2 linked regions of the Homo sapiens genome follow. Changing the gene in region 1 together with any one later gene gives a genetic interaction. Each region holds a gene or a part of one and is shown in the gene's direction. Other genes may lie near its edges.

Evidence for each region.
Region 2: changes in PSMB7 (region 1) and MRPL22 together harm fitness more than expected from each alone (negative genetic interaction), as found in Homo sapiens cells (one large-scale study listed by BioGRID).

The regions. Positions count from the first base shown.
Region 1 is NC_000009.12:124,400,954-124,406,756, reverse strand, and holds part of PSMB7 (proteasome subunit beta type-7 precursor), read left to right. Parts: intron 1-1,324; coding exon 1,325-1,440; intron 1,441-5,803. UniProt on the Homo sapiens protein: Component of the 20S core proteasome complex involved in the proteolytic degradation of most intracellular proteins. This complex plays numerous essential roles within the cell by associating with different regulatory particles.
Region 2 is NC_000005.10:154,967,492-154,969,911, forward strand, and holds the end of MRPL22 (large ribosomal subunit protein uL22m), read left to right. Parts: 3' UTR 1-1,920; downstream 1,921-2,420.

The DNA.
Region 1 (5,803 bases):
TGTGGGTGGAAAATATATTCCTGTGATGTTCCTGAGGAAGTGTAAGTTTATCCTATGTGTAGTAGCAGTGGTTTCTTAGGCTATCATGGAGTTATTTTAATATTCACTTTCCTGAATGATGAAATACTTTTTTTTTGATACGAGTTCATATATGTAATTATAATATGGGTTAATTCAAAGGCAGAGGTGTTTCGACATGAGCCATTTTTCTGTTTGGGCTGTGGTGAGGTTGATACTTTTTTTTTTTTTTTTTTTTTTTGAGACAACTCTTGCTCTGTCCTGGCTGGAGTGCAGTGGCGTGTACATGGCTCACTGCAACCTCTGCCTCCCAGGCTCAAGGGATCCTCTCACCTTAGCCTCCCAAGTATCTGGGACTACAGGTACATGCCACCATGCCTTGCTAATTTTTTGTATTTTTTGTAGACAGGGTCTCGCCATATTGCCCAGGCTGGTCTTGAACTCCTGGACTCAAGTGATTTGCCCACCTCAGCCTCCTAAAGTGCTGGGATTATAGGTGTGAGCCACCATGCCTGGCCTTTGTGGCCAGGTTGATAATTTGAACAGTGGAACAGCTGAGCTTAGCACCTCCTCATTGTTAACTGTGGAGGTAGCTTATGTGCTGATCACAGAGAGGTGTGATGGGAAAAGTGCTGATAATCTTTGGAGTCAGTCCAATTTGGTTCTGAGACCGGGCAAGTTCTTAATGTCTCTGGGTTGGTTTTTTCTTTTCTAAAATGGGAATGATAATGTTGTCTTTTAAAGGGGACTGTGGGCTGGGTGTGGTGGCTCACACCTGTAATCCCAGCACTTTGGGAGGCCAAGGTGGGAGGATTGCTTGAGTCCAGGAGTTTGAGACCAGCCTGGGCAATTTGGCGAGACGCCATCTCTCCAAAAAAAAATACAAAAATTAGCCAGGTGTGGTGGTGCACACCTGTAGTCCCAGCTACTTAGGAGGCTGAGGTGGGAGGATTGCTTGAGCCTGGGGAGGTTGAGGCTGCAGTGAGCCGTGATAATACCACTGTACTGCAGCCTGGGTGACAGAGTGAGACCCTGTCTCAAAAAAATAATAATAATGGGGGCTGTGAGGCTGAGCTGAAATCAGGTGTGTGGAGTGCCTCACATAATTTATAGTTTATACTGGCTGACAGTAGATGTTCATCTAATGTTCCCTTCCCTTTTTTGTTCCCATCAAAACAATAACCCCTTAATGAAACAGTCTTAAGGAAAACTTTTTGTTACCTGACTTCTCATGCAACTTTTGGCTAAGTTACAGTGATGCTTTGTGGACTCATGTTTTTTTTCTTATGCATACTCTGATCACCAGGTATCAAGGTTACATTGGTGCAGCCCTAGTTTTAGGGGGAGTAGATGTTACTGGACCTCACCTCTACAGCATCTATCCTCATGGATCAACTGATAAGTTGCCTTATGTCACCATGGGTGAGTGTAACGTTTTCCTGATGTTTAAGAGTACTCTTACTTACCACGATGGTCTCTTGAAGAGCTGGTCTGTTTTCTCTTAGAAGAGGAGGTGCAATACAATGCTTTGATTCATTCAGCAAATATATACTGAGTTCCTACTATAGATTAGGCCGTGTTCTAGGTGCTTGCTATATAGCAGTCAACACAATTCTGATAGTGATTCCTGCTCTCGAGGATTTTGTATTTTAGTGAGGGTAAATAGACAATAAACAACTGTGAGAAGTATATTTATAATACACAGGTATTCTAAATTAATACACAGGTATTATAAATATATATAAATATACACAGGTTATACAACCTGTGTATTATGAATATATTTTTATAGTCTGAAATCTGAAAAGCTCCAAAATCCTAAAGTTTTTGAGTGCTAACATGATACTCATTGTAACATTTTTATTTTTATTATTTTTTTCTTTTTTGAGATGGAGTTTTGCTCTGTTGCCCAGGCTGGAGTGCAGTGGCATGATCTCGGCTCACTGCAACCTCTGTCTCCCGGGTTCAAGTGATTCTTCTGCCTCAGCCTCCCAAGTAGCTGGAGTGATAGGCACACGCCACCATGCCCGGCTAATTTTTTGTAGTTTTAGTAGAGATGGGGTTTCACCATGTTGGCCAGGCTGGTGTCAAACTCCTGACTTCAAGTAATCTGCCCACCTCGGCCTCCCAAAATGCTTGGATGGATTATAGGCATGAGCCACTCTGCCCAGCCTCATTGGAGCATTTTTGATTCTGGATTTTTGGATTAGGGATGCTGAATTGGGTGAGTTATAATGTAGATATTCCAAAACCTGAAATCTGAAACACTTCTGGTCCCTGGCATTTTGGATAAGGGCTACTCAGCCTGTATTAGAAAGTGATACTAAGAAAAAAAGTAATACAGATGATATTGTACTATAGTTACACAAGATACTATCTTTGAGAGAAACTGAGTCAACTTCATATGGAAATGCTCTATTTTTTACATCTGCATATGAATTTGCAATGATCATAAAACAAAAAATTAAATTCACACATGATAAGGGGACTTGGGAGTTGTGGGCAGGGGCTGGGGTGGAGGCAGATGGCAGTGTTAAATAGAAAGATCAGGGCCAGGCACGGTGGCTCATGCCTGTAATCTAGTGCTTTAGGAGCCTGAGGTGGGAGGGTTGCTTGAGGCCAGGAGTTTAAGACCAGCCTAGGCAACATAGCAAGACCCGGTCTGTGCCACATATATATATAAGCTGAGTGTGGTGGTGTGTGCCTGTAGTCCCAGTTGCTTGGGAGCCTGAGGCAGAAGCATTGTATGAGCCCAGGAGTTTGAGGTTGCAATGAGCTGTGATCAAGCCATTGTACTACATCTTGGGCAACAGAGTGAGACCCTGTCTGTTTAAAAAAAAAAAAAAAAAAAATGTCAGGACAGGTCTTATGAAGAAGGTGAGATTTGAGTAGAATTCTAGAGTAGAAGCCTTACATTGAAACTTGGCAGGTACATTTTGACCTAGAGGAGTGATTGTGGTCCTTCTTTACTACTTAATCTCTGAGGGATTGGGGTATTTGATTTCTATCTGAACCTCAATTTCCTTACCTGTGAAGTGGTATTGGTAATACCTACCACACCAAGTTGTAATGGTTGGAAATAACGTATATAAAGCATGTGCTCCAATGCCTGGCCTGTAAATAGTAGTTATTTTTTTGCCCCCTCTCTTCCTCATTTGCTAACCAGCTTTTTGCATTTATGTTTTAGCTCTAGCTGCTAGATTAGGAGATTTTTTGACAGGCTCTCACTCTGCTGCACAGGCTGGAGTACAGTGGTGCAATCACAGCTCACTGCCACCTCGACTTCCCCGGGCTCAGGTGATCCACCCACCGCAGCCTCCTGAGTAGCTGTGACTACAGCCATATTCTGCCACACCCATCTAATTTTTGTATTTTTTGTAGAGATGGGATTTTGCCATGTTGCCCAGGTTGGTCTCGAACTCCTGGGCTCAGGTGATCTGCCTGCTCCAGCCTCCCAAAGTGCTGGGATTACAGGTGGCTGATAATTTTTTTTTTTTTAATGACTGCAAAAAATAGTGATAAAATTATATTTAGAAGAATTGGGATTTTCAAGTTCTAACATTTACATTATTGCTTCTGGGTCAAATTGCATAGGTCCAGAAATTCGAACAGGTTGTGTGTATCGTGTAGCTGGTGTTTTTCCAGCTGTCATTTACCTCTTAATATTTTCTGTCTTGGTGTCTTGGCTCCACATCTAGGAAAACTGCTGCCTTGAGTAGTTTGGAAATTGCCAGTTTGAGACTTTGCTATGCCATTGTGTTGTTATCTAGCCTCTTACAAGGTTTTTATATAACAGATGTTCACTGTTTGTTGGGGAGAATGATTTATCCCCAGATACCATACGGATGAATCTTTGCAGTTATTCTAAAATGAAGATACTTATGGTAATTTTAGAATTGTTCTGAATTGCTTTATTCAAAGGTATTAGGTATCTCCATCAAAGTATTGCTTTTATTTCTCCCCATCTGATACCTTTAAATGGTGGTAAAGGTGGAATAACCTTTTCTATTAAGTAGTTTTTATTTTTTCTTTTTTTTACTTAAATTTCAGACTTGCAGAAAAGTAACAGTAACGTTCAACAAACACTGATCTGTCCTTTACTCAGATGTGTCAGTTGTTAGCATTTTGACACATGTGTTCTGCCTCTCACACACACATTGTTATTCCTATCATTGTTTCGTGTGCGTGGGGAACCATTTGAGGGTAAATAGCAGGCACCACAGCCTTTCACCTCTGAATCCTTCAAGATGTTCTCTTCTGTCACCTTGATAAAGTCATCAAATTTAAGAAGTTTGACATTGATACAAAGCAGCTTCATTTGTAAAATGGGAAAATTGGTTTCTCTTGCCAGTGAACTGTGGTAATTTGTGTCATGAGCATAAAGCTGAATTAGGAAAAGTTGTTGAAAGTGAGTAGGTAAACAGCTTTGTGTCTGCCCATTTTACTTCTGCCGCCCAACTTTGTGCTTTTTCCTGGCCAAGAGTGACCTCCTGTCTGTCCAAGTCTCATTTGAGTTCCGGGTGATGGGTCCACAGCTCTTGAGTTTATAGAATAATTCTATTTAGAAACCACTGACTCCACACAGACTGGTTTTGCTGCCCTAAAATGCCAGATTAAGGAGAATGAGACATCAGTAACATCTGATTTTAATACCCAAGTAAATTGTTACTTTGAGGTCTTGTTTGTTCCTCCACTCATTTATCAGCTTTTTTTTTTTTTTGAGACTGAGTCTCGCACTGTCACCCGGTCTGGTGTGCAGTGGCATGATCTCTGCTCGCTGCAACCCCTGCTTCCCGGGTTCAAGTGATTCTCCTGCCTCAGCCTCCCGAGTAGCTGGGACTATAGGCATGCACCACCATGCTCAGCTAATTTTTGTATTTTTAGTAGAGAGGGGATTTCACTGTGTTGGCCAGGCTGATACGGAACTCCTGACCTCGTGATCTGCCGGCCTCTGCCTCCCAAAGTGCTAGGATTACAGGTGTGAGCCACTGCACCCGGCCTCATCAGCTCTTTAGTGAGTGCCTTCTGTGTAAAGGCACTATAGCAGGCAGCACAGATAGAAGTGAATATCAGGGTCTTTGTCCTCAGATACTCAGTCTAATGGGGGAGACAGATGTACCTACTGACGAGGGCAGGAGGGGACCCAAGGGAGAAAAGGTCACTTCCAAGCTGGGATAATTCAGGAAGAACTTCACTTGAGCCGAGTCTTAGAAGGAGGATTGGATCTCTTCATTCATTTGTCTGATGTGTATTAAGCATCACTAGTGCGGAGCACTTTGCTAGGAGCTGGGAAGATTAGTGGTTAACACAGCGTCTGCCTCAGAGCCTATAGTCTTGTGAGGGAGACAGGTATTAGACAGGTAAATTCACATGAACCTAGAAGAATGCATTGTGATAAGTGCCCCAGAGGAAAAGAACAGTCATTAGAGAGGATAATAGGAAGGAGTGTGTGGCTGGTGGGTGTTTGTGTAGTCCTTTCTGAGCAAGTGACATTCAAGCATTTTCTACTGAACATAATTTATGAACATGACAGAACATTCAAGTGGGACAAAGAACTATAAGAAAAGTCTCCTTCACATCCCTCCAGAGTAACCACTGTTAAGAATTGTTTGTATTTTTTTCCAGAAAATGTGTTATGATAAACTTTCACGTATCTCCTTCTCTGTCATCTAGTTACCCCTTTAAAAAAAACACACAAATGAGCTCATGCTATACATAATATTCTTCCCTTACTATTAACTCGTTTTGAAGAAGTGTTTATATCAGCTTACGTGGGCCTATAGAA
Region 2 (2,420 bases), on another chromosome or scaffold:
AAGCAAAGCCTGTTTTTATTTCTTCTTCCAACAGTGCTTTATATTGTTTGGATATCTTGTTTAGGATTGATTTATTTTTCAGGGTAAATTCAATTACTGAGAGAGGAATTGAACCAATCTCAGCATTGCATTCTAAAATGGGGCAGTAGGTGGCACTCAACCTTTTATTAGCAGAAAATTGTTAGTTTCAAATTAGAGTGTTCAACACTGCTTCCCTCTCATTCATACACGTCTTCATTAAGAAGAAGTACTCTTTGTCTACAGCCCTAGTCCAACTTTTGCATGCAAAAGAAGAATCGAGGATGCTTGCTTGTTAATGCAGACTTCTGGGCCCCACCCCAATGATTCAATTCACTAGGTCTTATGGGGGGCTGGTTTCAGAAATCTATGTTTTAAACAAACACTTCCAGGTAATTCTGTTGTAGGGGACTACGCTTTGAGAATACGGCTTTAGGAGAATGAAAAAATGTAGTTTTATTGCCATGTTTTAAGATGGCATTAATAATAGTTACTGTTTACTGGGAACTTGTTATTTGCAAGCTCTGTGCTAGTATTTTACATAATTCTTCACAACATCCTGAAAATGTAGCTTTTGTTTTACCACTTTACAAAGGAATAAACCGAAGCACACAGAATTCAAATAACTATCACAAGTCACACAGCATGTAAATATTGGGGCTATGATTGAAAGGTTTCTAAAGTAGCTGGTTCTGCATACCTTTTGAGTATACAGCTGGGTTTTTGTGTCTCTCCAGTTAACCTAATGCATGGGTAAAAAGACATCAGGGGTCAGTGGAATAAACCAAGGTGTAGGACAGATTCATTCTGGGTCCTAAGCTGTTGTAGCATGGAGTCAGGGAAATAACACTGGAATATTAAAAGGTAACCTTCATTCTAGTCTGTGCATTCTCATTAGCCAGAAAGAAGACTGGATAGGTCTCTTCCCTTGCTGGCCTCCATTTCATTCATTTATGAAACAAGAGACTCAATGTTCTCTGTAGAAAACCTTTTTTAGAATCACTTGAAGAATTTGTTTAAAAATGCAAATTCCTGGGCTCTACTCTCAGACTAAGTGAATCAGAAGCTTTGGTGTGGGAGACCATGGAACCTGCAGTTTTAATAAATGCCCCAGTGATTTGCATGTTGGAGAATTATCACACCAGGTCACTGTGCTCTCATGTGGTGGGGATGCTCCACGATTGCTCTTGGAGTTGTGACTTCCTTGGGTGTGACTAAAGCCAGGTGGTGCCATGGACATCATAAATATAAATTATGTAAGTGAAGGCACTGCTTCAGTCAGGCTGTAAAAGCTATTTTGAAAGTGGTAAGGAAAAAGTAGGATTGTAATGAAGAAAATTTCCTTCCCAGGTTAAGCCTTCATTTGGAACTGCTTCCAGTACGTTACAAAAAGTAATAATAGCTAACCTGTGTCACTGACTGTATCTGGTACTATTTTAAGCACTATATATACATTATCTCAATGAATCTTTCCCATTGTGACATCCGGCTAGTTTTCGTGGCTAAGAGTGTACTTTCTAACATCCATGAACATTGTGGTCCCCACCTGAAGTTTCACTTTGCATGTTCAGTGATATGGTTTGGCTCTGTGTTCCCACCCAATCTTATCTCAAATTGTAATCCCCATGTGTCCAGGGAGGGACCTGTAATCCCCACCTAGTGACGGAGGGAGGTGATTGATGATGGGTGTGGTGTACCCCATGCTGTTCTCGTGATAGTGAGTGGGTTCTCATGAGATCTGATGGTTTTATAAGTGTTTGAAAGTTCCCTCTTCACTCGCTGTCTTGCCTGCTGCCATGTAAAATGTGCCTACTTCACCCTCTGCCATGATTGTAAGTTTCCTGAGGCCTCCCCAGCCATGCAGAACTTTGACACAATTAAATGTCTTTTCTTTATAAATTACCCAATCTTGGGTATTCTTTATAGTGGTGTGAAAATGGACTAATACATTCAGAAGCCATTATCTGTTATTCTTTAATGGCAATCTCTGAATGCTTGTACTTTCCTTCTTTTCCAAAGAATTACTGTAGACCCAAATTTTCATCATTTGAGTGTAGCACATTCAGAAAGTACACCAATTGCAAGTATACAGCACAAATTATGATCAGCTGATGAACATGTACAAATAACCCCCATTAAGACAAGAAATAGAACATAAATAGCAACCCTGAAGCCCCTACCTGCACCCCCGGTCACTACCCCATCTCTCTTCTCAAAAAGTAATCATGATAGATTAAAAAAAAAAAAGGTCAGCTTTTGTTTTTTCAACTCTAATTTATTGGGCAACTATTATATACATGGTACTGAAGATACAGGCAGTGAACATAGTAAATATGGCCCCTGCCTGAAAGAGCTGACTGATGGGAAAGACAACTGTACATCTATCATTGAAAGTATTTATT